Linked DNA regions of Homo sapiens. The protein of the gene in region 1 purifies or fractionates together with the protein of each later gene. This does not show direct contact. Each region holds a gene or a part of one and is shown in the gene's direction. Other genes may lie near its edges. The genes, in order: ABHD14A, NDC1, TRABD and TMEM59.

Region 1 (7,371 bases):
AGACCTTCACCCTGAAGCTCAAGCCAACCCACCATTGGAATCAATCCTGCCTGGGCAGGAGGCTCGCCCTTGAGCCCTGAAACCATACCATCCCTGGCCTGAGGGGGTGGGGCCAGCCATGCTGCTCCTTTCACACCTGGCACCGAGGGTTGGGACCCAGCCATCTGGGTTATGACAGGCAGTCTGGGCACTGATCCCATCTACCCTAGAACCCAGCTCAGGGCTTTGCATGTGGGATCACAAGTGGGGGCCTGGCCACCCACCAGGCCCTGCCTTGTCCCCCAGAAGACTCAGGTCTCACTCCTTAGGGCTTCCAAAAGCCTATGGTTATTATTCAGTCAAAATACTTTACTTCCAATTGGCTGAGCACCGATTACTCTGTGTCAGGTACTAGCCACATACTCACATGGATTATCTCATTCCATTCTCATTAGAGCGAGCCCAAAACATGAGTGTGGTTATCTCCCATTGCAGATGAGGAAACAGAGGCTCAGAGACACTGAGACAATGCCCAGGTAACAGTGAGGAGCAGCTGGGCGGTGAGGACCACATCTGGATCAAGACTGCTCAGAGGCCCTTGCAGTGTGCTTGACCAAACGCTGTCAAGTTCAGGGCCCAGCCTGGCTGGGTCCTCCAGATCCCACCGCCCCCACCCCTGGAGTGGGGAGGGGCTACATGTTATAGGAACCTGGCCCTGTCCCTAATGAGACCTCCCCAAACCCTGCCCAGAAGCCTGCCCCTTAAGTACCTGGCAGGTCAATGGCCACAGCCCGGTAGCCAGCCTGGGCCAGCCTGTGCAGTGTACCCAGGTTCTGCCAGGTCTCGGAGGAGAAGCGAATACCATGCAGCAGCAGTACAGAGAAGCGAGCCTGCCCACTGCCGGGCAGGGCCTCTCGGAAGAAGAGGGCCTGGCCCTGCACCTGGATGGTGCCCTCGCGCTGCTCCACGCTTGCTGCCATGCCTGCTGCTGCTGTGCTGGTGAAGGGCCTGTGGTTCAAAACCACGATGATGAGGGGCCACAGAACACCCTGCCCAGGGTGGCAGTCCCAGAGGAGCAGCAAGGAAGCCTCCAGGAGGTTTCCAGAACTTTAAGAACATGCCTTGGGGTCAGGAGGACATAGGTGTTATTTCTGCCTCTGCCATTTACTTTAGTGTGTAACCTGGGGCCTCAGCTTCTTGATCTGAAATATGGGAACAATAAAGCCAACTTCAAGAATTAGCAATTTAATTAAAAGTTTAAGAAAAATTATCGGCCAGGCATGGTGGCTCACGCCTGTAATCCCAGCACTTTGGGAGGCCGAGGCGGGTGGATCACCTGAGGTCAGGAGTTCAAGACCACCCTGGCCAACATGGTGGAACCCCGTCTCTACTAAAAAGAAAAAAAAATTAGCCAGGTGTGGTGGCACGTGCCTGTAGTCCCAGCTACTCAGCAGGAGAATCGCTTGAACCCGGGAGGCAGAGGTTGCAGTGAGCCGAGATCGTGCCACTGTGCTCCAGCCTGGGTGACAGAGTGAGACTCGGTCACAAAAAAAAAAAAAAAAAAGAGCCAGCTGATGGTCACATGTAACTCTCATTAGGCCAGGCGCGGTGGCACACGCCTGTAATCCCAGCATTTTGGGAGGCCGAGGCGGGCGGATCACCTGAGGTCAGGAGTTCGAGATCTCCCTGATGAACATGCAGAAAGAAACCCCATCTCTACTCAAAATACAAAATTAGCCAGCTGTGGTGGCACACGCCTGTAATCCCAACTACTTGGGAAGCTAAGGCAGTAGAATTGCTTGCACCCAGGAGGCAGAGGTTGCAGTGAGCCGAGAACGCGCCATTGCACTCCAGACTGGGCAACAAGAGAAAAACTCCATCTCAAAAAAACAAAAAACAGAAAAATTATCAGTGGGGGTGCCTGCTGTAAAACCTCAATATGTGGTGGGGCTCCATTACAATTACTGTTCTTATTCTCATCGTTATTATCCTTTTCTATAAATGGGGATAATTCAATAGTACTAGCTCATAGGTGGTTGATAGGATTAAATAAGGCCATGCATGTACCATGCCTAGCACGTAGTAAGGGCTCAGTGCTCAATCAACGGTAAGTTACAGGTCATGAGTTGTCAATGCAGGCCAGAGGGAGCCCAAATTGGGGTAAAAAGCCCATTTTATTTTATTTTATTCTATTTATTTATTTTGGGACAGAGTTTCACTCTTGTTGCCCAGAATGGAGTGCAGTGGCATGATCTCGGCTCACTGCAACCTCCACCTCCTGGGTTCAAGCGATTCTCCTGCCTCAGCCTCCCGAGTAGCTGGGTTTACAGGCGTGCGTCACCATGCCTGGCTAATTTTTTTTTTTTTTTTTTTGAGACGGAGTCTCGCTCTGTCGCCCAGGCTGGAGTGCAATGGCACATCTCCGCTCACTGCAAGCTCCGCCTCCCGGGTTCACGCCATTCTCCTGCCTCAGCCTCCCGGGTAGCTGGGACTACAGGCACGCGCCACCACGCCCGGCTAATTTTTTGTTTTTTTTTTTTTAGTACAGACGGGGTTTCGCCGTGTTAGCCAGGGTGGTCTCGATCTCCTGACCTCGTGATCCGCCCGCCTCAGCCTCCCAAAGTGCTGGGATTACAGGCGTGAGCCACCGTGCACGGCCTAATTTTTATATTTTTAGTAGAAACGGGGTTTCATCATGTTGGCCGAGCTGGTCCGGAACTCCTGACCTCAAGTGATCCACCCACCTTGGCCTCCCAAAGTGCTGGGATTACAGGCGTGAGCCACCGCGCCGGAACTAAAAGCCCATTTTCTTCGGTTTTTTTTTTTTTCTTTTTTTTTTTTTTAAGAGAAGATGTCTCGCTCTGTCGTCCAGGCTGGAGTGCAGTGGCGCAATCATGGATCACTGCAGCCTTGACCTTCCTGGGCTCAAGTGATCCTCCCGGCTCACCCCCAGTAGCTGGAACCACAGGCGCGCTTCCACACCGGAAAGCCCATTTTCTAGAGGCGGAAACCGAAGCGCCCAGTGGGAAAGGCGACCCGCCGGGGATGCGGGGTGCTCAACGCGCTGCCACCTGGGGCCCAACGCGTTGACCTCGCGGTCAGGTTGCTTCCGCGGACTACGGTTCTGGCTCGCTAGCTCTGGAAGGGAGCACCGGGAGGGAATGGTGGCAACTCCCAAGGAGGGGACCCAGGGATCCGAGAAAGGAAGACTTGGGGTAGGTGGGGTTGGATTTTGACTGGAGAGAAGAAAGGGTCAGGAGTGCAGGGCGGGTACCTGGGGAGCTGCGTGGACTCGCGCAGACGGGAAGCAGGCGCGTGCTGGCGGTGACCTGGGGCCGGAGGAGGAACGCTGGGAAGAGGCCGGGCCCCATCCAGCGGGGGCGGGGACTGGGCCGTGCTCCGGGGCGCCCTCTTGTGGCCACAAGCTCGCAGCGTCCATAGACTCCGCTAAACTCGTTCTCACAGCGGCGTCAGTTTCCCAAAGCCTCTCGGTCTCACATGCCCCAAACGCGGTGCTGAGCACGGTTTCGAACTCTTCAGCGACCTGCCCCACATGGACATGGAGCAGTCTGAGGAGGAAAGTTCCTTCGGGATCGCATCCTTGCTGCTGTCTTCCTGCTCCCCATCCCCCTTATCCCCAGCTTGAACTGCCCAGGGCAACTTGTTGGCCTGGCACGGAGTTGAGGCCCGACAGGTTTGAGTGCGAGGCTCCGCCAGTGTCCAGCCAAGTGGCCTTGATCGTTTTCCCAATGCCCCCGAGCCTGTTTCCTGCCAGTAGAGCGGGTCAGATGTTGCCAACCTCTGCAGAGTAGCAATAAGCAGTAAACGCCACGCTCTGCACAGCCTCCCAGTGCTGGGCCTGGTCGCCACGCGGAGCCTTGGGCTGGGACAGGCCAGACGTTGGTAACACATCGCCAACCAGGGCAGGCGCCATGAGTAGACGTGAACGAGCCCAGGGCCAGCCCAGGCTCTGACCGTGGGTGTGCGTCGGGGAGGGGGTGGGGAGGAGTGGGTAGGAGTCAGGAAAGTGGGTCGGCCAAGACCTGGAGCTGCTGCATAACAATATCTGGCATTTACACAACGAGGCCTCTGCTCCGGACACTGTTCTGAGGCTTGACCCGTCCTTAAGAACCTAGGACAACCCTGTGCGGTGGGTTTTATCCTTAACTCCATTATACAGGCCAGAGAACTGAGCCAGGGTGGAGATGTTCCACTGAGAAGAAGCCACATGGCTCTCCGCCGGCTCTCAAGCCAAAAACAGTTCCGAAAATCTGGGCGGGGAGCGGGCCAGAGAGCGCTGGGGCTCTGCCCCCAGCACCCCCTCCACGCAGACGACTCGGTAACTGGGTTGCAGGCCCGCGGCTGCGGAGTGCGCAGGCGCGCCGAGATGGCCGCGCTCCTGGCCGCCTAGAGCCGGAGCGGCCCGCGGAGCTGCGGAGGCAGCCATGGTCGGGGCGCTGTGCGGCTGCTGGTTCCGCCTGGGCGGGGCCCGCCCGCTCATCCCGTTGGGCCCGGTGAGTCTCCCGGGGGAGGGAGGCCGGCCGGTGGCCCAGGGGAGGGCCGTCTTTACCCCGCCCCTTGCCCCGGCGCCCCGGGGCAGAGTCCCGCGGAAGAAGCAGACGCTGGGGCCGCGAATGTGCATGTGCGCGCGTGTAATGTGTGTGCGCGCGCAGGGTCTGCATATGTTCTTGGGGGTCTGGGTGTATGTGTACGCTTGTGTGTCTGCATGGTGTCCGTCAGTGGGTTTCTGCGCGCTTATATTTTTGGGGGGGGGGTGTGTTCGTTGATGTCTGCCTGCTTGTGTCAGCGTTATGTCTTCCGAGTGTATTTCTGTGTGCGTGTGATTTTAAGGGTATGTGTCTACCTGTCTGCGTGTGTGCATTTCTGGGGGTTTGTGTGTGTGTGCGTGTCTGCTTTCCTGTGCATGTGCCTTTCTTGTGTGAATGTGTAGTCTTACGGTTGTGTGTATGACCGTGCTTGAGTATTTCTGAGGATCAGCCTGTGGTTTTCAAAGTGTGCATCTCCATCAGTCTCTCTGGCTTCCTGATGCCTGACTGTGTGCGTGATGTAGAGGGTACCATTACAAGGGATTAATTGCACACGGGCCAGTGTGTGTGCAAAGAGGCTGCATGTACATGCAGGGAATAGCTTGTGCAAAAGAAAAGCGTGTGGGGGCAAGACTCGTATTTGTGCGTGTGTGCACCTGTGTGTCATTGTCAACGCATATTCCAATGACCTAACCCGGGCACAGTTTACCCTGCCCCCCGCAAACCCCCGCAGGCGGCCAGCTGCAGGTCCACTACAATTTCCTAGTACTGCGGGCACCCTCGGTTGCCAAGGCAACAGCCTAAGCCCCGCCCTTCCCGCTTTGGAGAAGCGCGGGGGCGCCCCGAGTGGGCAGCAAGGAAATGTCCCTCGCGCCCGGTGGGAATCTGGACTAACGCCCAGTTAGAGACGCGCGTCTGAGGTTGTTAGTGGTCTGGAAGAAAAGAGGAACGCGCTCTTCCTCCACTAGGTCCTGGTTTTCCAGAAACAGCAGAAAGGCGGCTGCTGCTGTGGCTCACAAGCCCCCCGACCCCGAAGCCTGGGGATGCGGGCTCAGGAAACATCCCCAAAACATCCCGGAGGGATGAATAGGAACCAAGACGGGCCCCCGGCTCCTAGTTCGGGCAGGCGCCCAGTTGGCACTCAATAAAGATGTGCTGGCCCGGCGCGGTGGCTCACGCCTGTAATCCCAGCACTCTGGGAGGCCGAGGCGGGTGAAACACGAGGCCAGCAGTTCGAGAACAGCCTGGCCAACATGGTGAAACCCTGTCTCTACTAAAAAATACAAAAATTAGCCGGGCGCGGTGGCGGGAGCCTGTAATCCCACTATTCGGGAGGCTGAGGCAGGAGAATTGCTTGAACCCGGGAGGCGGAGGTTGCAGTGAGCCGAGATTGTACCACTGCACTCTAGCCTGGGCGACAGAGCAAGACTCCGTCTCAGAAAAATAAAAATAAAATAAAGATGTGTTTGCTGGACTCCTGGAAGGAAGCAGGCGTGCTCATCCTAGGCCCAAGAAATGACAGGGACAGCCCTGATCCAGTCCACGGTATTATCTAAATCTCACAGGAAGCTTAGGAGGGCAGCCACGAGGTTATCCCATTTTACTGACAAACTGAAGACACAAGGTCAGGAAGTGGCAGTCTCAAAGGCCTGTCCTGTTTGAGTCCTGGGTCCTAAGGGCTGTCCTCTGGGGTGGCAGAGACCCCAGATTGGAGGAGTCCACGAAGCAGTCATTTGGCCAGAAGCTGTCTGTGTGTAGGATGGGGAGTAGCAGGCGGCATTCATCTCTCCAACCTCTACACTGTGCTTTTCATTTCTGGGTGTACCATGCTCCTCCCTGGCCCTGCAGCCCCTCACTCCTCAGCATTTTCCTCTATTACAAGACATTCTCTGTGAGCCTCTTCATAACAGCTGGGTTAGACCTTAGTTATAATGCGATTGTAAAACGCGTTCTGATTTTAGCAGTATTAAATGCAGTGAGATTAAAAGAACCATTTCCAAACATGCCCTTAAGTGGGAGGTCCCTTTGCGCGCAGTCTTTCTCCTTTGATAGCCCTCATCACTTTTTCCACCTGCAAGGCTCCAGTTCATCCATCATCTCCCAGCTCCACGGGTTCCTCCTTGGCAAACCGAGTGTGGCCTGGTAGTTAGAAGCCCATTCCTAGGTTCAAACCCCAATTCCCCCACTTGCTACTTGGCACTTTGGGCAAGAGAATGTACCTCTCTGAGCCTCCATTTCCTCACCTATAAGAGACCTATAATCACGTCTGCTCCCCAGCATTCTTGGTGGAAAAGAACCTTGTATGTGAAGTGCCACACTCAGGGCCTGCTGTCATAAGCGCTTGATGAACGGAAGTGGTTTCAGCTGATGCCATGATGGTGGCGGTCACTGAGCATGCTGTGTGCCAGAGAACACCTCAGATGCACCTCCTCACACTGTGAGGTATCTGAGCGCTTGCCCTGGCATGTGGAGTAGTTGAGTGTGAACTCCCAGAACTTTGCCCAGAGCAAGGGAAAGGGCAAGGGCTGGAGCTCTTCCTCTGCTGGGGACTCTGGGTGGGGTTTTGGGATGGGATCCAGGGTCCTTGTAGGGACTCAGTTCCAGCCTCTTTTCCCTCTCCTCTCCCTCTCCAGACTGTGGTACAGACCTCCATGAGCCGGTCCCAGGTAGCCCTGCTGGGCCTGAGTCTGCTGCTCATGCTCCTACTGTATGTGGGGCTGCCAGGCCCCCCTGAGCAGACTTCCTGCCTCTGGGGAGACCCCAATGTCACAGTCCTGGCTGGTCTCACCCCTGGCAACTCGCCCATCTTTTACCGCGAGGTGCTCCCACTCAACCAGGCACACAG
Region 2 (7,044 bases), on another chromosome or scaffold:
TGAACATCTGAAGTAAGTTTACCTGTTTTGATCCATGATGATACCTATTCTGGGGAGCTTTCCTTAGAAATAGGTATGGGAATGATAAGGCTCATGTGTTGAAAGTGTTCTTTTGGGACCTTGATGATTCTCACTGTAAACTTACAGCTTGGATGTGGACTTAATATTTATATTTTAAAATTTGGCCCATCATAAAGCTTTGGGGATTTCTTTCAAATGGACAAAAGAAGACAGAAAGTTATAAATGCAGCAGATTAATTATATATATATATTTAAATTATCAAAAGATCCTTAAGGGAGAAAAAAGAGCAGAAAACCCGAGTACCTTTCCAGAAAAGCATATTAAAACTAATTCTATTGTTATATCTTGGTCAGCAAACTGAAGACTTGGGGTGAGCAAAGTATTCCAGAAATGAATCCCTGGTGCTTTGTGATTCATGCTGGAAAAACACCAACAGATCACAACACCTTGAGAAACAGAACCAGAGAGAAAACCACAAATGCCAAGCCTGTTTATATTTAGTTTTATTCATGTTTACTGCTTTCCTCTTGTGAAATGATCTAGCTAGGCAGGATGAGGGATACTAGCTTAGTAACTAAACTGTATTTATATTTATCACAATTATAAATGAACTTTAGAAGACACGAGAGATTGCTCTGCTGTTTTTGTATGCAATCAATGAATAGTTTAAGACTTCCAATTTAAATTAAAGTTAAATAAAGTTAAAAATTCAATTTGTCAGTCACCCTAGCCACATTTGAAGTACTTAATAACTACATGTGTTTAGTAGCTACTGTATTGGACAACAGAAGTATAACATCTTTCCCTACTTCCAGAAAGTTTTATCAGATAGTGCTATTCTAGACAATACACTTAGAACTTAATGTTTTTTCATTTACTCTTTTCAAAGACCCTGTGAAGTGTAGAAATTATCATAATTGTACAGATACGAAAACTGAGGCATAGAGATGTTAAAATTTGCCTGATAGCACAATCTAGTGCGTATTAAACATGAACCTGAAATCAAGTCTTTCTTTCTCTTAAAAATCTTTCATCTTTCTATCTACAACACTAGACTGCCTCCAAGATATAAATTAGTATGTAGGACACATTCAGAAAATACTGATGAATTTAGAGAATGAAATAGATATGACATATATTAATGATAGAACAAAAGCAAGGAGAAGGGCATACCCGTAGACCTTGCCTGACTGTGCTCATGTCCAGGCAGGGGGGACATTGTATTCGAGATTAATTTGAAGTTCCTGCCAGCTTTATCCAGCTTAATCAGTGGCTGGATAAATAGCAGGACTGTAACATTCCCCTGGGGGAAAAAAGGCAAGAAGAAAAGGGGAGCATAGGGATTTAGATAAGAAAGCGATATAGGCCAGGCACAGTGGTCTATGCCTGTTATCCCAGCACTTTGGGAGGCCGAGGTGGGTGGATCACCTCAGGTCAGGAGTTTGAGATCAGCCCGGCCAACATGGTGAAACCCCGTCTCTACCAAAAATACAAAAATTCACTGGGCGTGGTGGTGCTCACCTGAAATCCCAGCTACTCGGGAGGCTGAGGCATGAGAATCACTTGCACCCAGGAGGCGGAGGTTGCAGTGAGCCGAGATCGTGCCTCTGTACTCCAGCCTGGACAACAGAGCGAGACTCGGTCTCAAAGAAAAAAAAGAAAAAGAGATATAGATGACTGATTAAAAATTATGAGAATGGATTATGAGAATGGGCCGGTTGCAGAGGCTCATGGCTGTAATCCCAGCACTTTGGGAGGCCAAGGCGGGCGGATCATCTGAGGTCAGGAGTTTGAGACCAGCCTGGCCAACATGTTGAAACCACTTCTCTACTAAAAATACAAAAATTAGCTGGGCATGGTGGCAGGCAACTATAATCCCAGCTACTCCAGAGGCTGATGCAGGAGAATCACTTGAACCCGGGAAGTGGAGGTTGCAGTGAGCCGATACTGCACCACTGCACTCTAGCCTGGGCGACCGAGCAAGACCCTGCCTCAAAGATAAATAAATAAATAAATACATAAATAAATAAAATAAAAATTGTGAGAATGAAATTCCGCCTTAGTTTCTTTTCTCTGAAAAGAGCCATATTTTAGCGAGACCCTGCCTCAAAAATAAATAAATACATAAATAAAATAAAAATTGTGAGAATGAAATTCCACCTTAGTTTCTTTTCTCTGAAAAGAGCCATATTTTATATATGTGCCAAAGCTGATAAAATCAGTGGAGGCTATTTGTACAAATGTAGGACAGTGTCGTATAGTGGAAAGAATGTTAGATCTGGAGTTAAAATATCTGGATTTCTGTCTGCTTGCATCATTAGCTATCTGTGATTGTGAGCAAGTTTCCTAGTGTTTTAAGTAATTCACCCAAGATTATGCAAGTAGTGAGTTGCAGAACCAGGATTCAGATGCAAATCTTTCTAACCCTAGGGTTCTATCTCTAGTGTCTATACTCCTAACCTAGACTGTGGTGTTTCCCCTAACTTCTGAATCTTTCTGATACAGTTTTTGTCCCCATGAAAGGGAACATTCTCACACCCACTTGGTTTCATTTGTTGTTAGTAAAGATAAAATGGGATCATACGTAGGTAAAGCCCACTGTGCAGTCTACATTATCATGATACTTATTGTATAATATCTGATTATTCACTATTCAAAGCTCTACCTCTGAGAACTAGGTATAAATGAAGTTAGCTCTTGAGCTCTGAAAATCAACTAACAAACACAGCCCACTCATTGGAGACATTCATTCAACACTATTTACTTATTTTTTAAAAGATAAATTGTATTGTGTATATTTGAGGTTTATAACATATGTTATGGGATTTATATATAAATAGTAAAATGTTTAGTGAAGTAAATTAACATGTCTGTCATCTCACATAGTTACTTTCTTGTGTGTATGTCAAAGGCAGCTAAAATCTGCTTATTTAACAAAAATACCTAGTACATTACAATTTTGTTAGCCATAGTCGTCATGTTATACATTAGATCTCTAGACTTGTTCATCCTACATATGTGCAACTTTCTATCCTTTGACCTACATCTCCCCATTCCCTGCCACCTCCCATTTACTCCTAATTTAGGCTAATTTAATTCTGGTTTTCCAGCCTATAACATATCAAAAAAATTTTTTTGAGTCAGGGTCTTGCTCTGTTGCCCAGGCTGGAGTGCAGTGACAAGATCATAGCATAGTTCACTGCAGCCTCAAACTCCTGAGCTCAAGCAGTTCTCCTGCCTCAGGCCTCTCAGTGTTGGGATTACAGGTGTGAACCACCATGCCTGGCCCATATCAAAATTTATTTGAGGGGCAGAGATTGCTACTAGAGTCAGGAGTACTAATAGTAAATTGTAAGGGACACTTTACTACCTGCTAGCAGAGAGAAATATAATGGGAAAGCCACAGATTTGGTGTTGGAGAGAATTCCAGAGCCATTAAGTTAGAGAAGACAGCCTCACTAGCACCTAGAGGGCATCTTTGTACAGTAAAATACTTGAAATGGTTCAATTGGAGGTACATGGTTCAAGAAAGCAAAGATGTCTATAAGACATTTTAGGGCAATTCATAACACAATTATTAAAATAAGACCGTTTTGGCACTTTTAAAAGCGGTGACCTATTCAAGAACTAGAAAACCGGAATTTTTCATTATATTCAATTTTTGCCCAAAAGTTTAAGAGGAAGTATTATACTAGTTTCAGTATATATTTGCCCTAATTTTATCAAGGTGTAATATATTTTCGTGATGGTGAGGGTGGAGAGAGAACACAGTGTTCACATCCAAAACATAACTTATGTTCAAAGGGAGAAGTAAATCTAAACCACCAAGCTGTTACCTTTGAAAACAATTAATGGAGTCTATTGTGTTTTAACCAAACATTTTAGATTAAAGGATTTTGTATTAAAGGCAATTCAGATACTCCACAACTCAAAGATAATGTTGGAATCTGGTTTAAATAAAATAATAAAATCCAGAAAATCTACTCCAAGGCCTGGAACTCCGCACAGCAGGTTCCATAGCAGAGCAGGTTAAAGTCAATGCCTTCACTTGTCAGTCTTAATTTGTTTGGTCTTTTAGAAGATAGAAGCATGCCATTACTGAATGCAAGCCCTCCTCTTCATTAGATTAAAAAGAGTTTTCATCCAGCTTTTTCAGAAATAGTAATAAGTGAAGATTTCTATTCATTTTTAATTGTTTTGAAAAATATTGTCTCTGTGCTCTGTGGTTCACTTAATATGCTTAATGTAAAATAAAGCTTATGCTTTGAATTTATGTTTCATTTAGTGCTGTGCAAGCATCTGCAGAACATCAGAAAAGACTTCAACAGTTCTTGGAGTTCAAAGAATAGTTAAGTAATATAAACTGTGTTCATTACACTGCTGATACAACTACAGATGGGACAGTAAATGTTCAGCATTCTTGGATCAGAAGAAAACGGACTAATTAGATGCTTCCTTTGTCGTGGTGGTTGCTTTGAAAACTATACTTTAATGGGAGAAATCATGGAAAGAAATTCTCAACAGAATAACTGAAAACTGCCTTTTCTGTACCGATTGCTTTTTGTGTGTGTGGTATAATAAAATCTTTATTCAATTTTACAGAAGCATTGATGGCAGTCGAAATGTCTCTAGCTCATATAACTTAATAGTAATAACTAAAAAACTTTTAGAATTTACTTTTGAAAGGAGGGAAGCCAGTTCTGAAATGAGTATAGGTTGATTTCATAGTCTTCTTAATTAAGAGTTTAGCTCTTTGTAAACTCAAAATACATAAACTTTTTAAGTGTAGTTTCATTTACTGAAGGATAAAAATGGTAACAGTGCAGCAATATTCACAAAAAATATTGTCTAACGGACATATTTTGTTAATCTGTTAGGTTGGGTTTTTGTTTCCAGGGACAAATTAAATTTGTATGATTACCCAAAAAAGGGTCTCAGTTTACAGATGCTAACTCTATATAAAGGAATGTGGAAAAACTCAGTTCTTAAGTTACAAGATTAAAAATTCACATTTGGTCTTTAAGAAACAATTGACTGACATCTATGAATTTATTTTGTATCATGCTAGTAAACACGAAGTATTAATGTATGGGTATTTTCCCAGCTAGTTTTGCTTTCTTTTTCTGGAGCAAAACATTAAGTGATTGCAGAGTTTTTCAAGCAAGAGAAAAAGGTTTGCAAAAAAACCCAGGAAATGTTCCCTTTTTTCCCCACCATTCATCTTCATTAGATCAAATTCTGTGAAACTTGTCTGGTCTCTCAAAGGGAGCAGCCTCTGTAGTGTTAAATGGCTAATTAAAATAGGAAGATCTTTATAGCCAGAAACAACTTAGTCATCAAATAGCAAGTGAAACCAAAACGTCAGAGGGATTACTGTACTTGGAAGTATGTTGTGTGTCCCAAATGTGAACGAAGTATTGTTAGAATTTATTAGATCAGCTTCTTTGGAGATCAAAGATTGGAAATCCTAGTCATAGATATTCACTGGACTGGCTTTGGACTGAAATGCTCCTTTGTAATTCTTTTCCTATTGTCTTTTCCTTCTAGTGTCCCAAAATATTTTCTTTAAAGTCAGCACAGTACTGTATATGAATCTTTAATGTGGTATCATATATGTCTACTTTTGTCTGATTCATCGATGTATTATATCTTTATAATTGAATATTTTAGCTCCGGGTCCTGTTGCCCCTTCAAGCAGTACATGCCAAATTATAAATAGGTGCTACTGGCCTTGAGCATATCACTGTGGGACAGTTCCCCAATTGTCAAGTGTTTAGATATGTAGACTATTGCCATTTGTTTTTTTGTTTTGGTTTTGCTTTGTGTCTGAAGCTGAATTGATTTCTTTTTTTTGAATGTGAAAGTTGAATTTCAAACGTAGTCATTTCTTACAGATGGCCAAGACAGAAAATTGTGGCTAGGTTGACTGAGAACTGTTGTCTTCCATGTATTAACACAATTAAGCTTTTTATATTCCACTCTCTGTGCTGACCCTGGCTGAGGCATTTTGGGAGACAAGGACTCTGAATCTTCTGCTTCCATTAAAGAAGAACTGTGATATTCAACATTGGATTTCTGAGAATAAAGATAGGATGATTCCTTTGAACTTTGACTTACTTGTATAAAATGTCCAGCTAGGTTAGGTTTTTGCCATTTCCTATATACTTTGGGTAAAGCTACATTTGATGAGCAATGTGAATGTTTCTGAGAATGTTCATTCCTGTTTTCTCTTAAGAGAATGTGCTGTGTACTAAATACAGGCCACATAGTGTCTGCCTGTTGAAGATCTGGAAACTGCCTCCCCAGATCTGTATTGTATTTGGTAGGTAAGGGGGTCAGTTTCTTTTTCTCATTGTGTGTTGATAATCTACACACCATCTGTTGGAACCAGGGTGTTATTATGGGGAACTCCTCCTGTGTACTAGGAGGAGGACCTTAGGGAGACCAAGAGGAGAGAAGCATTTCCTTTGATGAAGTCACATCCTGTCTATGAGCCCACTAATGCTGTAACATTGGCCTGAAAGAGAGTGTTCTTTAAAAGCCTTTCTCGGCTGTTAGTATAAAAACATGATGGTATCAGCTCTTAGCATGTTTGCTTGACCCTTATGGAAGGTATAAATCCACAGAACTTCCTTCCCAGAGAACTGGGAAATTGTCCTAGAAATAAACCTTGTACAGTTGAGTGGACATGGATAAGCAACAATTTGTTACTTTGCAGGATTTGTTCCTTGGTAATTGTTTGGTGTGTCATCCTGTAAATATTCATGATAGTCTGTTTATATCCTTTTGTATATCGTTGATACTGGATTGGGTAGAAAAATAAATTGGCAATTTAAAAAAATGGAACAGTTAATTGAAATATGTGTGTTTATAAGGTCAATTATTTAATTTCTGGGCGGGGGGGTGGTGGTGGTGATGTTTCCTGAATCATTTCAATTTAGTCTCAGAGTTGTTGCTTATAAAACCAGAAAGAGTTGAACTTCTTGAGAAGTCAGCTTTTGCCCTTAACCTAGACTGATTTG
Region 3 (4,227 bases), on another chromosome or scaffold:
GTCCCTAAACGTTTGGCGCCTGCCTTTCATTTTTTAATTTCTCCAGATGAGGCAAGTCACCAAAGAAGACCTCTGTGGGCCGTCTTCTAAAGGGCAGTCCCCGGTCCAGCCAGGGCCCAGCACTGGGCAGCCTCCCCACCAGAGCCTGGGGCCCAGTGATCTCGAAGGGGCATAGAATTCGGCAGTGCCGTGCTGCTCACTGCTGCGGTGTCACAGAGGGAAGGGGGCGTGGGGCAGGGTCTGGGAGACACCAGGTGTCCGCTTCACCTGTCCCCTCCCGGGGGACACTCGCTGTGCCCTGGTGTCTAGGTTTCTACTGGGGTTGGTCACAGGCACGTCTGAGCTCAGACCCCAGCCCCTCCAGAGGTGGAGTGGGTCCCAGTGGACCAAGGCCTCGTGAATGTCTCATCCTAAGTTAGCCTGGGCTCCCCAGGGTGGCCTGGGCCCCGGGGAAACACGGGCACTCCATCAGGCGGGACATTCCCAGGGCTCATGGCTCAGGCCCAGACCGTCCCTGGGCGCGTGCAGGTGTGAGCGATTGCCCGGCGCTGTGTGGCCCCCGGGGCTTTGCTGCCCTTCTGTGGGCATCATCTCCTTCACACGTGGACACCCCCGTGGTGCCAGCCGGCCGGTGAGACAGGGGCAATAGGCCTCGGGCTGTAGCTGCTGAAGATGGGGGTGGCCTGGTGTCCGCACCAGCAGTGCTGTGCTGACCTCAGCAGGCAGGTGTGAGTGGTGAGGCCCTTTCTCCAGCCTGCCTGCCCAGCACCCAGCGTCTGTGCCAGCTCAAGGCGGCCCCTTCGCAGAACGAGACTGCCTCATAAAGGCCTTTTCTTCTTCTTTTTTTTTTTTTGAGACAGAGCAGTCTCACTCTGTCACCCAGGCTGGTGATCTCGGCTCACTGCAACCTCTGCCTCCGGGGTTCAAGTGATTCTCCTGCCTCAGCCTCCCGAGTAGCTGGGATTACAGGCACCCGCCAGCACACCCGGCTAATTTTTATATTTTTAGTAGAGATGGGGTTTCGCCATGTTGGCCAGGCTGGTCTGAGAGAGAACTCCTGACCTCGTGATCCGCCTGCCTCAGCCTCCCAAAGTGCTGGGATGACAGGCGTGCGCCACTGCACCCGGCCCGTGAAGGTCTTTTCTGAAGGGAGCTACCTTTGAGAAGTGCCTGTTGGGACAGAACTCCCTGCTCTGGTCTGACCCTCTGCACGCTAGGGTGGTCCTGCACCTGTCGGGGAGGGGGCCAAGGACACAGCACTGGGCTGGGGCAGGGCTCTGCGCTGGTGCTGCCTGCCATCCCAGTTCTGCCATTCCCCCAGCGCACCCCCGCACCCGCCCCTCCAGCTGATGCCTGCTCCCTCTCTCTGCAGAACGGGCTCATGTCGGGGCTGATGCAGATGCTGCTGCTGAAGGTGTCTGCACACATCACCGAGCAGCTGGGCATGGCCCCAGGTGGCGAGTTCAGGGAGGCCTTCAAGGAGGTGGGCACAGGGTGAGGTAGGGGGTGGCCACAGGGATGTGGCTCACAGGGGTGGTCCGGGGTTCCCACTGCTCCCCAACACCCAGCCTCTGCTCCAGGCCAGCAAGGTGCCTTTCTGCAAGTTCCACCTGGGTGACCGACCCATCCCCGTCACCTTCAAGAGGGCCATCGCAGCGCTCTCCTTCTGGCAGAAGGTCAGGCTGGCTTGGGGCCTGTGCTTCCTGTCAGACCCCATCAGGTAGGGCTGCCCCCGGGACCCTGGCCGGCCTGCAGGGTGGTCTGTGGGAGGCTCCAGGCCCTCCTGTGCAGGTCCAAGCGCAGCCAATCCTCACTCAAGGCCTTCCCTGCCCTTTCCTTCCGCCACAAATCCCAAACAAACGTGCTGTGGTCCCTGCCCGGTGTCCACAGTGCCAGCCCCACCCCCCCAGCCCGTTGCCCATCCCTGCGGGGCTGCAGCCATCCCTCTCCACAGCAAGGATGACGTGGAACGCTGCAAGCAGAAGGACCTACTGGAGCAGATGATGGCCGAGATGATTGGCGAGTTCCCAGACCTGCACCGCACCATCGTCTCGGAGCGCGACGTCTACCTAACCTACATGCTGCGCCAGGCCGCGCGGCGCCTCGAGCTGCCTCGGGCCTCTGACGGTGACGGCCGCCCGCAGGCGTGGGACCCCCTGTGAGGCTGAGGCCCGAGCAGGTACTGACCCCTTGTCCTTCCCCACAGCCGAGCCCAGGAAGTGCGTCCCCTCCGTGGTCGTGGGCGTCGTGGGCATGGGCCACGTGCCTGGCATCGAGAAGAACTGGAGCACCGACCTCAACATCCAGGAGATCATGACGTGAGTGCCCGCCCCTCCCTGCAAGCCCCACCCCACAAGCCCCCAGGTGGAGGCTGAGCGCCCTGGAGGCCAACCACATGCGGCAGTGACCCAGGCATGGGGGCTGGGGTATGGGGAGCCCACCCCCAGCCAGGCCCAGCGCCCCCTCCCTCCCACAGCGTGCCCCCGCCGTCCGTCTCCGGCAGAGTGTCTCGGTTGGCCGTGAAGGCCGCCTTCTTCGGCCTGCTGGGCTACAGCCTGTACTGGATGGGCCGCCGCACCGCGAGCCTGGTCCTGTCGCTGCCCGCCGCGCAGTACTGCCTGCAGAGGGTGACCGAGGCCCGGCACAAGTAGGAGACTGCTCCCCGCCCGCTCGGGCCCCTGAGGAGCCAGTGCCCCCGCGGCACTTCTGGGTGCCAGGTGCATCCTAGCCCGCCCGAGGCCCCTGCCACCCCCCATGGGGGTCTGGGCCCGGCCTCGCCTGCCCTCCTGGGCCAGTCACCCCTCCCCCAGCCCACCCAAATAAAGGATTATTTAACTGTCTGAGCTCAGGCCTCCCGGCAGCCCCTCCCCTCCCACACTGCAGGGGCCGTTCCCCAGCTTCTGGACAAGACACCCAGCTCCGAGGGGGCAGGGGCTTATAGGAGGGGCCGAGGCGTGCGCTGCCCTCTCAGCCCTGGTGGCAGGCGGGGGACAATGGCCACTGTCCCTACCTCACTGTGCCTTCCTGTGCTCCGGCCACAGGAGCGTCGGCCCAGGGGCGGCTCCTGGGGGCTCCAGGGCAGGCGAGACTGGGAAAGGCCCAGCCCTGGAGCTCCAGCCGACCCCACCGTGCCCCTGGCATCCTGGCCCTGGCCGCCACCTCCCTGGCACCGTCTGCCTGCAGGGATTCTGTGTTTTTGGCTTTTTTAATGTCTTAAAATCTTTTACTCAGGTAATTTTAATTTCAGAGAGAAAAACTGAAGTAAATGTCAAAAAACACCAGCCTTAAATCCAAAGGGAGAGAATTCGTGTTCTTGGGTCTGTCCCGAGTGGGCTCGCGTGCAGCCAAACATCAGCTCTGGGTCCAGGCGTGGCCTCAGCTGGGAGCCTGTGTCCTGAGCCCCCGGAGCGAAGGGGTGCCTGGGGCATCTTGGCCCTCTCTGGGCAGACAATGTGTGCACCTATGTGGAAGGCCAAGGACATGGGCTGTGGCCAGGCCTGTCCCGCTCAGGCCCCCTGCCCGGCGGCCGTCTGTGTGCGGGGCCTCCCTCCTGGCTGTCCAGGACACAGCCCGTGCAGCCCCAGCCTGGACCCAGGCCATCTCTGGTTGTGTCTGTGCCGACTCGGTGTTGAATCAAATCAGGTGTGCGTCAGGAGCCGGCTGTGTCCTTCCTGCCACACTCGGGGATTCATTCCTTAGAAACTGAAATAAATTCTAATTTTGGAAACTCCTGTTTTGTGACGTGTGAACATGGGGTTCAGGTAATGAAGGATCCCTGCCTCTTCCCCCGTGCTCCAGTGCAGCGGGTACTCGTGGCCCTGCCGGGGCCCTGGGGGAAGGAACCTGCCTGGTTTCCAGCAGAAGAGACAGAGTCGGGTCCCTCCATGCTGACCTGTGGGACCCTTCTCACCCACCAGGTGGGACGCAGGTGGCCTGCTGACACTCAAGACCCTCCATACCCAGTCCCACCAGATTCCAGAGTGTGGACCAGACTGAGCCAGACTGGGGCCCCAGGGGGTCGAGGAGACAGATCAGGAGGGCCCAGGGCCTGGGGAATGGGGAGGGGTAACACCTGCCAAGGAGGATGCTGGGAACGGGCGCCCAGAGCGGCCGGGGGGAGGGGGCTGCTGAAGAGGGAACGGTTGCTGTGGGCTGCAGAGGAGGGTTGGGCACGGGGACCTCACCACATTATCCCTCATCCAGTTACCTGCCCAACGCACGCGGAGG
Region 4 (7,000 bases), on another chromosome or scaffold:
GGTTCAAGTGATTCTTCCTCAGCCTCCCGAGTAGCTGGGACTACAAGCATGCGCCACCATGTCCAGCTAATTTTTGTATATTCAGTAGAAATGGAGTTTCACCATATTGACCAGTCTGGTCCTGAACTCCTGATCTCAAGTGACCTGCCCACCTCTGCCTCCCAAAGTGTTGGGATTACAGGCGTGAGCCACCATACCCAGCCAGAGAGAAGACTTGTAGAACCACTTAATAGTTTAAATTAATTACCACAATATTAAGGATCAGTGCTGCTTTAGAAGCAGCAAGGCTGGGCCAGGTGTGGTGCTCATGCCTCTCTAATCCCAGCACTTTGGGAAGCCTAGGCAGGAGGATCACTTGAGCTCAAGAATTTGAGACCAGCCTGGGCAACATGATGAGATCCTGTCTCTATGAAAAATTATAAAAATTATCTGGGTATGGTGGTGCGTGCCCGTGATCCCAGCTACTTAGGAGGCTGAGGTGGGAGGATCACTTGAGCCCAGGAGGTTGAGGCTGCAGTGAGCCAGGATTGTGCCACTGTACTCCAGCCTGGTGACAGAACAAGACCCTGAGTCTCAAAAGAAAAGAAAAAAAAATGCTGGAGTGTTTGATTTTGAGTTGTTATATTCTGGTATCTAACCCCAAAAGAGATGGGAGACATTGTGACTTCCTTGGTAATTAAAATTTAACTGGCCCAAAAAATATAACTGTTAAGGTAAAGGATTTTTGTTTGGGGGAAAGGCTATAATTTAATTATTCAACTTAGCTTTCAAGAACAGAAAAGTATTTATATAACTAAATATAGAATAATAATGGCTGTCAACATCTAATCCAACTGAAATAAACTTTAGTTTTCTTATGCCTCCAAAGTACCATAGAAAAAGAGAAAAGACAGAAATTAGAATCTAATAATAAGCCATTGGCATGTGCCTAACATGGTGCCTGAACAACTGTCTTATCCTAATAGACTATAAAGATGTTTAAATATATGATTTGCACATGAAAAATGATTAAGATAATATTACACTTAATATTTTTATTAAGGTGATATAATTGATGTAGGTACCTGGAAACTGGGACAGGATAATGTTGATAACTAACATTTATATAGTCGTTAAAATTTACAAAGTATTTTCATGTATCTTCATATTCTTCCCATCTAACTGAAATGTTGTGTCCTTTAACCAACATCTCCTCAGTCTCCTACCTCCCTTCAGTGGCTTCTTTCATGTTGATGTATAAAATCAAACAGTTCCTGGTTGCTGCTTCAAGATCTTTAAATATTGTTAGGTAGAGTTGTGAACATTTTTCTTTCACAGTGCCCCAGAGCCAACGGTCACATGTGAATTCTGAGTTTTATGGAGGCCTGCTATATCAGATCCATCAGATCCACGTCCAACCCATCAACCACTGAACTTTCTTTTTTCTTTTTTTAGACAGGGTCTCGCACTGTCGCTGAGGCTGGAGTGCAATGGCACGATCTCAGCTCACTGCAATCTCCACCTCCCGGGTTCAAGCGATTCTTGTGTCTCAGCCTGCCGAGTGGCTGGGACTACAAGCGCACACCACCACACCCAGCTTATTTTTGTATTTTTAGTAGAGATGGGGTTTCACCATGTTGGCCAGGTTGGTCTCGAACTCCTGACCTCAAGTGATTCGCCTGCCTTAGCCTCCCAAAGTGCTGGGATTACAGGTGTGAGCCACTGCGCCTGGCCTGAACTTGTCTTAAAGCTACTCTCATACTGGAAAAGCTTAAGGTACTGGGGCACCTCCTTGCAGGATAGTTGTTCCCCTGAGGCAACCGTCCAGTAGAACACATCTGAAACATGTGTGAGTAAGCAACTATCGTGACAATCACTTTTAGAACATTTTCATCAGCCCAGAAAGAAAATCTATACTCTTAGTAATTGCTCCCCATTTTCTCCCAAGCAGCAGCAGCTGCACCACCCCTACCCCCATCTCACCCTCCAGCCCTAGATAGCCAATATGTAGTCTCTTGTGACTGGCCTCTTTGACTAAGCATATTTTCAAGGTTCATCATGTTATAGCATGTATCACTTTATCACTTTTTTTTTTTTTTTTTTTTTTGAGATGGAGTCTTGCTCTATCGCCCAGGCTAGAGTGCAGTGGTGCGATCTCGGCTCACTGCAAACCTCTGCCTCTCGGGTTCAAGCGATTCTCCTACCTCGGCCTCCCTAGTAGCTGGGACTACAGGCATGCACCACCACACCCAGCTAATTTTTGTATTTTTAGTAGAGATGGGGTTTCACCATGTTGGCCAGACTGGTCTGGAACGCCTGACCTCAGGTGATCCACCTTCCTCAGCCTCCCAAAGTGCTGGGATTACAGGCTTGAGCCACCACGCCCAGCCAGGATAGCATGTATCACTTTTGATAAACTCTTGAAGGTGCTCTTTATTCAGCATCTTTTAAAAACACCTTTCCAGTATCGGGTACTTCTGTGGAGTTCTTGCTTTATAATCTAGTCAGTTGTCCTGCCAGTGATATCAGCACTTCAGTTTCTAACTTTTGGATACAGGGATTTGTTGCCGTATGAGTAGATTAACAACAGAATCTATACCATTTTTTTTTTTTTTTTTTTTTGTGAGACAGAGTCTCACTCTGTCCCCCAGGCTGGAGGGCAGTGTCGCGATCTCACCCCACTGCAATCTCTGCCTCCCGGGCTCAAGTGATTCTTGTGCCTCAACCTCCTGAGTAGCTGGAATTACAGGCATGTACCACCATGCCTGGCTAATTTTTTGTATTTTTAGTGGAGACCGGGTTTCACCATGTTAGCCAGGCTGGTCTCGAGCTCCTGACCTGAAGTGATCCGCCCGCCTCAGCCTCCCAAAATGCTGGGATTACAGGCATGAGCCACCGCACCCAGCCTATGCCGTTTCTTAGTGGAGACTTTTCACTTTGCTTTTCTGCCTTTAAGAGATACATACGGACAGGCCTAGTGGCTCACACATGTATCCCAACACTTTGGGAGGCCAAGGTAGGAGGATCACTTGAGGCCAGGAGTCTGAGACCAGCCTAGGCAACATAGCAAGACCCCATCATTTAAAAAAAAAAAAGAAAGAAAAAAAAAAGAAAGAAAGAAAAAAGAAAAATTAGCTGGGCATGGTGGTGCATGCCTATAGTCCTAGCTACTCAGGAGGCTGAGGCAGGAGAATCACTTGAGCCCAGGAGTTCAAGGCCTAGTAGTGAGCTATGATCACACCACTGCACTCCAGCCTGGGTAACAGAACAAGACCCCGTCTCTTTAAAAAAAAAAAAAAAAGAGACAGAGACATTCATACATATATCTAAGTCTACCTACTCTCAAAAGATGCTAGATATTACTATTATTCTCCAATGAGTTTTATGACATTTGCAGTGATTCTGTTTTATGCTTTCATTCTTTTAGTGTCTTCTTGTATATGGTATTAACAATTAAGGAACTTTATATATTTATGAAGACCCTTCTATCAGTGTGAGAGCATTTCATGCATATTCTTTGTTCTCGCAGCCTTTTCAAATAGCATCTATCATTTTCCATACATGTTAAGCTAAAACATTTAGGAGCAGAAAAACTTGCACCAAATTATTTTACCACTTGGTAGGAGAGCTAAGATGTTGAAGGACTTGATCACTTAAGGCATCCATAGCTGTTTTTCTTGATACCCAATTGTTATACTCCTGAGGATTTTAACTTGAGACGTGGAACAGCTTTCTTTGGCCATCCATTGGGAGCTGAATCACATATCTACAACACTTTGAGAAAAAGTATTCTTCTTTCTTAAAGTTGTTTATAGAATTTTTTTTACCAACTATTTATAAATTAAATTGTTATTTAAAGACTAACTTGGAGAGGTTCCTAATTATCCAGACTACTAATGTACATTGGTTTTCTTTTGCAGAAGCTGAGTATCTATGGTGACTTGGAGTTTATGAATGAACAAAAGCTAAACAGATATCCAGCTTCTTCTCTTGTGGTTGTTAGATCTAAAACTGAAGATCATGAAGAAGCAGGGCCTCTACCTACAAAAGTGAATCTTGCTCATTCTGAAATTTAAGCATTTTTCTTTTAAAAGACAAGTGTAATAGACATCTAAAATTCCACTCCTCATAGAGCTTTTAAAATGGTTTCATTGGATATAGGCCTTAAGAAATCACTATAAAATGCAAATAAAGTTACTCAAATCTGTGAAGACTGTATTTGCTATAACTTTATTGGTATTGTTTTTGTAGTAATTTAAGAGGTGGATGTTTGGGATTGTATTATTATTTTACTAATATCTGTAGCTATTTTGTTTTTTGCTTTGGTTATTGTTTTTTTCCCTTTTCTTAGCTATGAGCTGATCATTGCTCCTTCTCACCTCCTGCCATGATACTGTCAGTTACCTTAGTTAACAAGCTGAATATTTAGTAGAAATGATGCTTCTGCTCAGGAATGGCCCACAAATCTGTAATTTGAAATTTAGCAGGAAATGACCTTTAATGACACTACATTTTCAGGAACTGAAATCATTAAAATTTTATTTGAATAATTATGTGCTGAAATTTGAGTATCTGATTTTTCTAGACCTTCCCTCCTATTCCTGCCCAACCTAGATAAGAATTATGAAATGTTCTGTGTTTATTGCTATTGCTTTATAATGTGATGGTCAGGGACCATTTTGATGCAAAACTGATCTCTCAGCAGTACATTTGATGTTATTTTGCACAGGCTATAGGTTTTTGTTTGATGAGTGTTTCCAAAGAACTATTTTTCTCTGTTAGATAGCATATCAAGTATAAGGTAAACATATTTTCAGAGAAAACTTCATTTTAACACTAAAAATTAGACTCTTGTGATACAGAATTAAGTATAAATTTTACTTGGCAAAAACTCGTTTTATTTTTACCTGCAATAATACAGAGCTTAATATTAGAATGATATCAGGTCATAATAATAATACACCAGAATCTTTTGAGATGGAATTTTGCTCTTGTTGCTGAGGCTGGAGTGCAATGGTATGATCTTGGCTCACTACAACCTCCACCTCTGAGGTTCAAGCGATTCTCCTGCCTCAGCCTCCCGAGTAGCTGGGATTACAGGCATGCGCCACCACACCTGGATAATTTTGTATTTTTAGTAGAGACGGGGTTTCACCAGGTTGGCCAGGCTGGTCTCGAACTCCTGACCTCAGGTGATCCACCCACTTAGGCCTTCCAAAGTGCTGGGATTACAGGCGTGAGTGACTGTGCCCAGCCTACACCAGAATTCTAATATGATTCACTGTTATTATGCCATAAAATATTAAAAACTTTGTAAAACAATACTTTCCTCAGTCACAGGGGCATTGCTGACAACTGCATCAGTGCTGTTTGACTAAAGAATAAGTTAGTCACTCCTCCTATGGCCTAGTCTTTAGCCTTCCTGAGTCCAAATGAAAAGCAGTTAACAGCTAATCAAGGAAGACTTTGGTCACAAAGTGTAGGTTTTTATTTTTAGTTTGTCTAGATTTGGATGATAGAAAGTTGTGAACACATCCAGATGGGGAAGAAAGGAGGAATTAGCCGTCATTGTCAAGCAGTCATTGTTTCTTTCTTCTTTTTGTTAGAAAACATGGGATAAAACGTGGGGACTCAGCCAGGCACAGTGGCTCACGCCTGTAATCCCAGCACTTTGGGAGGCCAAAGCAGGAGGATCACTTGAGGTCAGGAGTTCGAGACCAACCTGGGCAACATAGCAAGACCCTCTCTGTACAAAAAAATACAAACAAACATGGGGACTATATAAAACATGGGTAGTGGATAGGAGTTACCATTAAAAAAAAATAAAAAGCCCTGTTGTTTCGTCTCCCATCATTAGTGCATACTTAGTTTCCTTAGTCAGGCACAGGTTTAATTGTAATGCATCCAATGAAGCAAACAGAGAAACACAAAATGCTGCTGTCTCACAGGAATCAAAGAGCCCACTGTTAGAAAAGACCCTCCCTTATAAAAACAAAACAAAGAATTATCTAGATCACTTGGGGCCAGGAGTTCAACACCATCCTGGGCAATATAATGAGAATCCCATCTTTTTTTTTTTTTTTAAAGCAACTGTACAGTTGTCCTATATTCTCCACCTTCCCTTGGTTTCATTTCTCTTCGCTTCCTGAATGAGAAGTGCCTGAGATACCTTCATTTCTCTTGAAAGTATTGATCCAAGTTTAGACAAATATCTCCCCTCTTGTTGAGAGAATTCCTTATATGTGAAAATACCAAGACATTCTTGATATTTAGCAGGCACTCAAATATTTGTCTCCTCTTTTTTAGCATAATTAAGCCAGACTGATGTTTGCATTTGAGTATCATCAGCATGAGTAACCATTTTAATCTCTCTTCCCTTAACTACTTGTTCTACACTAGAGTCTAGGGTCAGGGTACGTACAGTGATAAAGATTGAGATAATGGGAAATATAGTCTTCTGTTTGGGAAGCTGGATTGTAGTGTTGATTTTCTGACTCCTTGTGGTAATTAAATTCTGAAGCACAGAATCTACTTTTGAGAAGAAATATTTTACTTTTGAAAAAAAATCCCCAAAATATATACAGCATAAAAATGTTTCCGATCTTGAAAATCCCAACCAAAGCAACAAAACTGAGCTTCCAAGCCCCTTCTCCTAAAGTAACAGTTTTGCCCTTCTTGGATGTGCCTAACTTTACTTAGCTCCTTGTTTCCATAAAACAGTCATAATCTTATTTCCTACCACACAGAAAGCATCTTGAGAATCTGGTCTTGGTCCTAGGCAAATTCTCAAGACCGTTGGGTCTCTGGTTCAAACCTCCCAGACTTCTAAGGTCTTTCTTGGCTCAGGTCCCTCATCTAAGAGACATGCTAATTCAGGCAATTACAAAAGCAGTACTAATCACCATAATGAATGATCTGGGCCTAGGTTCCAAGTTTTCTCACAAAACTTCATGGGCACCTTTCATTTGTGATATGTTTTGTAGTAAATCAGAAATTACTAGATGATCTGGTCAATCTTATC

Evidence for each region.
Region 2: the proteins of ABHD14A (region 1) and NDC1 purify together in Homo sapiens (co-immunoprecipitation; 2 studies listed by BioGRID and IntAct, with this or other methods). This does not show direct contact.
Region 3: the proteins of ABHD14A (region 1) and TRABD purify together in Homo sapiens (co-immunoprecipitation; 2 studies listed by BioGRID and IntAct, with this or other methods). This does not show direct contact.
Region 4: the proteins of ABHD14A (region 1) and TMEM59 purify together in Homo sapiens (co-immunoprecipitation; 2 studies listed by BioGRID and IntAct, with this or other methods). This does not show direct contact.

The regions. Positions count from the first base shown.
Region 1 is NC_000003.12:51,970,712-51,978,082, forward strand, and holds the start of ABHD14A (protein ABHD14A), read left to right. Parts: upstream 1-4,352; 5' UTR 4,353-4,424; coding exon 4,425-4,493; intron 4,494-7,159; coding exon 7,160-7,371. Other genes in the region: putative protein-lysine deacylase ABHD14B, read right to left, coding at 749-959; ABHD14A-ACY1 readthrough (NMD candidate), read left to right, coding at 7,236-7,371. UniProt on the Homo sapiens protein: Possible role in granule neuron development.
Region 2 is NC_000001.11:53,765,297-53,772,340, reverse strand, and holds the end of NDC1 (nucleoporin NDC1), read left to right. Parts: coding exon 1-12; intron 13-1,187; exon of another isoform or gene 1,188-1,323; intron 1,324-4,307; coding exon 4,308-4,371; 3' UTR 4,372-6,863; downstream 6,864-7,044. UniProt on the Homo sapiens protein: Component of the nuclear pore complex (NPC), which plays a key role in de novo assembly and insertion of NPC in the nuclear envelope.
Region 3 is NC_000022.11:50,195,869-50,200,095, forward strand, and holds the end of TRABD (traB domain-containing protein), read left to right. Parts: intron 1-1,372; coding exon 1,373-1,483; intron 1,484-1,568; coding exon of another isoform or gene 1,569-1,580; coding exon 1,581-1,720; intron 1,721-1,954; coding exon 1,955-2,127; intron 2,128-2,206; coding exon 2,207-2,318; intron 2,319-2,476; coding exon 2,477-2,651; 3' UTR 2,652-3,247; coding exon of another isoform or gene 3,248-3,260; 3' UTR 3,261-3,727; downstream 3,728-4,227.
Region 4 is NC_000001.11:54,029,205-54,036,204, reverse strand, and holds part of TMEM59 (transmembrane protein 59 isoform 2 precursor), read left to right. Parts: intron 1-3,899; coding exon 3,900-4,055; 3' UTR 4,056-7,000.